Regions from separate parts of the Homo sapiens genome. Here region 1 is linked to region 2. The links come from fine-mapping of genetic effects on gene expression. A gene starts in region 2. The other region holds a variant in brackets. All regions are shown on one strand. Distances are from middle to middle. Region 1 overlaps SMPD3 (sphingomyelin phosphodiesterase 3). Region 2 holds the start of SMPD3 (sphingomyelin phosphodiesterase 3).

Region 1 (2,898 bases), 85 kb after region 2:
GCTCCTCGAGAGCATGTGGGCGGGGTATTTAGCAAGACTGATTTCTCTGCCCCCTAGAAATCCTAGAACAGGAAGAGCCCACGCTCTGCCTAGAAAGCTGGAGACAGAGATGCCCTAAAAACGAACCTCTGACAAGGAAGGCTGGGGGCCTCTGAAGCAGACAAAGGACGAGTCCACTAGTAACACCCATCAACGGGGCGCCGCGCTCTTGCTTCGAGCCAGCTGCCATTCTATCGCTGTTTCACTTAAGTGTCTTAACAACCCTGAGAGGGAAGCATTGCATGTCTCCACGTGGTGTGGTGGAGGAAGCTGAGACTCAGAGAGGCTGGAGAACCAGCCCAAGGTCACATAGCCAGGCAGTGATTGCACTGGGATCTGAACCCTGGGAATTGCACCTTAAACCATTAGGGTGAAAGACTACAAGCTCGTCATCAGTGAAACAGCAAACACTTGCTGTAAATAACTGATCTGTGGATCCGATGACCACATGGACCTTGTGGGGACCTTCCTTCCTCTGTCCGAGGACCGTGGTCACTGTCACTGTCCTCAGAGGGAATGCTGAAGATCAGGGCGTGTGCTGGGGGAGGTGTTCTCAAGGACACAGAAAAGCAGCGACAAATGAAGCACGGGGCACCTGAATGGGACTGAGATCCCACCCAGGGGCAGTGGCCTAAGGGATGGGGGCCTGGCAGCACATGGGGAGTAACTGATGGGAAGCAGGGGCACAGGCCGTGTGGGACAGCAAAGCCCCCTGGTGCCTCAGCGTTTCCTCCCTCCCCGCACAGACGACAAGCTGGAGCAGCAACACTCCCTGTTCACCCACTACAGGGACCCCTGCCGCCTGGGGCCTGGTGAGGAGAAGCCGTGGGCCATCGGTGAGCTGGGGCTGGGGGAGGAGGATGGGAGCTGGGCTCCCCACAGACTTCCCTCAAAGATCACCAGGACCTACCCCACAAGACCCCACTGCTGGGGAAGGGCCCCATTCAGCTGCCCCTGGCTAGCAGAAGCCCGTGTCCACCCACAGAGGCCACCCCCTAGAGGCTGCCTGGGCCCTGCCTGCAGCGACCACTGTCACCCCCTCGTCCCCCCCAGGTACTCTGCTGGACACGAACGGCCTGTACGATGAGGATGTGTGCACCCCCGACAACCTGCAGAAGTAAGCACTGCGCTCCCAGGCCAGGGACGAGGCACACCCTGACTAAGGTGGAGACAGGGACTGGGCAGGACCCACATGGGAGAGCTCAGCTCGGGCTCATGAGGGCTTTTATTTGGCAGAAACCTGTCCCTCATCTCACCTTTGAGAGCTTTTGAGAGCTGGGAGCTGGGCCAGGCAGGTAGACCTCACGCCCTCACGCCCAGGGGTACTGGCCTTGCTAAATCTCTAGGGGTATTTCCCAAACCTGTTTTCAGGAGCTAGCCCTGCCCCGAGCCCCTGCCTGCTGGGTACAGGAAAGGGCCTGGAATTTCCCC[CG/G]GGCCAGGCCACAGGTCGACCCCCATGAAAGAGCTGCTGGGTACGGCGCCTGCTGAAGGCAGCCTGGCAGCTTGCAGCACCAATCAGGCAAATACAGACACCAGCTGCAATAACACAGCCGACCATTTTCAAAGTAGAGACAGTTCCATCCCAGCCAAAATTCATTCTTGAGCCCAGTAAGATGTCCATAAAGAACACATCTGAGAGGCCAACAGCAGAACCAATTTATAATTCACAGCCCGAGACTGCAGTCACAGCGATGGTTCCTTGCAGCTAATTTGAGCCAATTAATTAGATTATAGACTAAATTTGAAACATCATCCTATGCTGAGAAAATTCTTTTTATGAGATGATGATTTAAAAATGACTACCAGTAGCTCTCAGATCATTGATGCTGGAATTAATTATCAAGGGCAAAGGACAGTGATGGATTCCATTTCTGAGCTGTAACAATGTCCTGAATGTCATTAGTGTATTTATCTTAAGGCTGATGAAAACCTTGTGGAAGCCCATGTTTGCAGGCCCTGCCTCGCCGGGTGCCCCTTTTGCATCCGTCCAGGCACTCACAGACCTGGCGGCCTTTGCAGGGTCTCTCACCACTGCACTTGCCATCCCAGGCCCTGGCCCCAGCCTGCCCTCTGCAATGGGGGCTCCCAGGAGGGGGTCCTAAGCCTCTGGCCCAGTGGTGCTGAGGCCCCAGGGGACAGGCTGGCAGGAAGCAGACGGGCATACTGCTTGTCTCAGGGCAACAGTGCCAGAAAGGGATTCCAGATGTCACATCCCCCTGCTCCAGCGCCCTGCCCTCCCTGTGGATCCCCTAGCACCATCATGGGTTTCCTCACTCAGAAGCGGGATGACAGCCTGTTCCCTGAAGCGTCTTGGGGCCCACAGCAACCATTCTTGTTTCAGAGGAGGAAACAGAGGCTTGGAGGCTTGGTAACATAAGCAGAGTCACACAGCCACGTAGGGACAGCCCCATTTGAGACTCCTCAGAGGTGCTCTCCTGGCTCCCTCAGCTCCTGTCAACCTGGGAACAGTCACAAGGGTCCCCGAGACTCATGGCAAAGACCAAGCTCCTCAAAACAGGCCCCTGTTGGCTCAGGGCAGAAGCCCATTCTGGGGAACGGGTGGGATCAGTTCTGTCCGAGTTCAGAAAGGGAAAGTGAGTGCTGGCCAGGCTGGGGCGGACAGAACACTTCGACGGGCTCCGGAGCCCAGATTCAGCCAGGAACCCACAGGCAACTCGGCCTACCCCCAGCTGAGGCCCTTTTTGGACCCGCAGGGGAGAGATCTTAAACCCAGCGCTTTGGTCCCACCCACCCGCTCCCACACTGGGAGGAGACCATGGCTCCACACACAGCCCCTGCCAGGCCCACAGGGGCGGGCATGGGGGCCCACCTGCCTCCTGCATGTGTGGACAGGGTCCT
Region 2 (2,898 bases):
CACCTCCAGCAATGAGAAATGCCCAACTTTAGGAAATCAGAGTTTTGGAGGTGTATGTGAATGAGGTTCCTTTATTTTCTTTTTTTTAATTTTATTCTTTTTCTCTTTTTTTTTTTTTTTTTTTGAGACAGGGTCTCACTCTGTTGTCCAGGCTGGAGTGTAGTGGTGCAATCTCGACTCACTGCAACCTCCACCTCCCGGGGTTCAAGCGATTCTCCCGCCTCAGCCTCCTGAATAGCTGGGATTACAGGCACGTGCCACCACGCCCAGCTAATTTTTGTATTTTTAGTAGAGACTGGGTTTCACCATTTTGGTCAGACTTGTCTCGAACTCCTGACCTAGTGATCCACCTGCCTCGGCCTCCCAAAGTTCTGGGATTACAGGCGTGAGCCACCACGCCCGGCCCAATTCATTTTCAATTCAACAAATATCTATATTTATATCTCAATAGCTAGTGAGTGCCTACTACGTGCCAGATACTAGACACTGGACTGTAAGTATGAATAATATAGACATGGCCCCTCCCCTGTGGATCTTATAATGAGGAAGACGAGCACATAAACATGCAAGTAGAACAGGGGAAGTAGAGGGTGCTGCTCAAACACAGGGTGGGGCACTCAACAGACAGCCCAGCATCTAGATGTCTTCACAAAACAGGCAATGTCTAGGCTGGGGCTTGCCGACGAGTTAGCTGAGGGCAGGGTGGAGAGGCCCAAGGGAGTAGGAGGCTTCCCAGCTTCCAAAGAAGTTAAGAGTGTTGCAAAAAAGTGGAGTCCAGATCTTGAAGGGGAGAGTGGGCTTAGGTCCGGGGGCATGTGAAGCGCCCTCCGTCTGCTGCGCTGGGGGAGATGCTGCGGTATCCTGGAGTGGTGTGAAGGAGGCCAGGACCTGCGATGGGAAGACGGAGACGGGAAGGCCCTGGTGGCCCAAGGGATGACCAAAAGTGAAGCGCTCCTCTATGACAAGATTGAGACAAAAATAAAGGAATAAAGTTCTGAATGCGGTGGGAGAGTCTCCTCCGTCCTCCCTCACCTTTGCTGGGCAGGAACCAAACCTGCTTGCCCTCGGTTTGCCCCATCACCGACGGGTGTGGTCGGGGGCACAGCTCTTCGCCCTTCTTCTCAGATAGGAAAACTGAGGCCCAGGGTCCTGAGGCAGAAATCAAGGTTTTCTCCTCGAAATGGCCTCCCAAGAGGCTGCCCGGGGTCTCACACGATCCTTCGAGGGTCCTGCGGCCTGCCCCACGCCTCCGCCAGCCATCCTCGGCTGGTCGTCTTTGCTATGGAAACGGTCCTCCCGCCCTGCTCCGCGCCTCCGTGTCTTCAGTGCACTCTGGGAAATGCAGTCCCGCTCTGTTTGCCTACCCGCGGCGTGAGCCCACTCCGCGTCCTTAAAGAACTATAAGTCCCAGAAGGCTGTGCGAAACTCCGCCGGTCTCTGGGGGATGTGGTCTTGAAGGAGAGACCCAGGAACCTGCGGGCGGGGCCGGAGGGAGAGGGGAGGACGCCCCCAATGGGCAGACTCCTGGGCGGGGTCCGGGTCACCATTGGCTCCGGCGGCGCGAGGGAGGCGGGGTCAGAGGAATGAAGCGCGGAGCTGTTCGCCGCTCCAGGTGCTGAGTCTGAGGGAGGCTCCGGACCCGAGAGCCGCGAGAGCCGCCGCCGCTGCGGCCGCCGCCAGATCTGCGGCCGGGAGCCCGGGCTGTGAGGAGCCGGGAGGAGCGGGGTGCGCTGCCGGGCGCTGACCGCCCTCCCGCCCGCCGTCAGAGGTCAGTGCTGCTGAATTCGCTTTTGTTTTCTTGGGGAGCGGGCGAACCGAGGCGTGAGGGGCTGGGGAGTTGACGGGACGTGTTCTCGTTGCTCTCAGGACCGCGGGTCCCGGACAGCCGCCGACTGACTAGGGGCCTCCCGTGGCCGGGCGCCGGAGGTCGGAGCAGCTTGGGTTAGTTTTCGTTTTATCATGGAGAAGGCTCTTGGGTATGAGGGGCGAGGGCTGGGGGTCACCCCCACCCCCCATCTCTCCTGGGAGAGCGAGGAGGCTTGGACCCTCCCTCCCGCTGTGCCTGGCGACGGGGCTGCTCGGATTACTCAGGACGGGAGGATGAGGTGTTGTGGGATGAAGGGACTCGAGGCAGGGGGACCCCTCCCCGCAACACTTCGGCTGCTCGAGGTTACAAAGGAGTCTGGTGGTGATGGATGAGATCGCGGACCGCTCCCCTAGCCCAGACCCTCCCAGGGGTATTCAGGAAGGGCTGCTTGGGATGCAGGGAAGACCCTTGCCCAGGCCCCTTCCTCCACACTCGCCCCCCTCCCTATTCCCCCCTCCTCCCTTGGCCCTAGGGTTTTGTAAAGAGGAGGATCGAGGATGTGGAAGAGACAGAGGACTCTTACCCCTCCCACTTGGACCCTCCTAGGTTACTGGTGAAGGGTGGAATTGGAATGTGGCAGGGAAACGCTGGGAGACCCCTCCCCATCCTTCTCGGAGTCGCGGGTGGAGGAAAGCACTGACACTCGGAATCCCCCGCGCTCGGGCCCGCGCCGAGGGTTGGGTGGCCTGGGTGTGAGAGGTAGTGTAGGGGGATGTACGAGGACAGGAGGGACCCCTCCCCACCTCTCCCCACCTGGGCCTTATCTCCCAGGCCCTCCCTACCTGGATCCAGGCCTGGGGCTCTAAGTCGAGACGACCCGCCCTAGCCCACCACGCCCCGGGGACCGAGCCTCTGGCACCGCAGCTGGGGGCCAATCCCAGATGGGCATGTACAGAGCGGGACGGGGCGGGTCTCCCCTCAAGCACTCAAGAGCTCCAGGTAGACGCTACCCCCAACCTCGTGCCCGCGAATCTTTGGGGGCTGCTCCGCTCCGATGCAGGGCGCACCCCAAACCGAGGCTCGGGGACCTG

The links. PIP is the estimated chance that this variant, and not a neighbour inherited with it, causes the effect.
Region 1: its variant is the best candidate, but not a certain one, in a credible set for the expression of SMPD3 in whole blood (INTERVAL, PIP 0.88).

Annotation. Positions count from the first base shown.
Region 1 is chr16:68,361,754-68,364,651 of GRCh38, reverse strand. It overlaps SMPD3 (sphingomyelin phosphodiesterase 3), which reads left to right. Exons shown (of 9, transcript NM_018667.4): 6 at 786-875; 7 at 1,093-1,156; 8 at 2,893-2,898. Among named protein-coding and RNA genes, the nearest start is that of PRMT7, 52 kb to the right of the region's middle. RefSeq lists enhancers at 460-1,271, 1,272-2,084. The variant CG/G (reference allele first, on the strand shown) is at 1,471.
Region 2 is chr16:68,447,223-68,450,120 of GRCh38, reverse strand. It overlaps SMPD3 (sphingomyelin phosphodiesterase 3), which reads left to right and starts at 1,613. Exons shown (of 9, transcript NM_018667.4): 1 at 1,613-1,768. It overlaps LOC124903705 (a long non-coding RNA gene), which reads right to left and starts at 1,281. Exons shown (of 2, transcript XR_007065097.1): 1 at 1,055-1,281; 2 at 1-956. RefSeq lists an enhancer at 1,246-1,295 and a silencer at 1,396-1,915.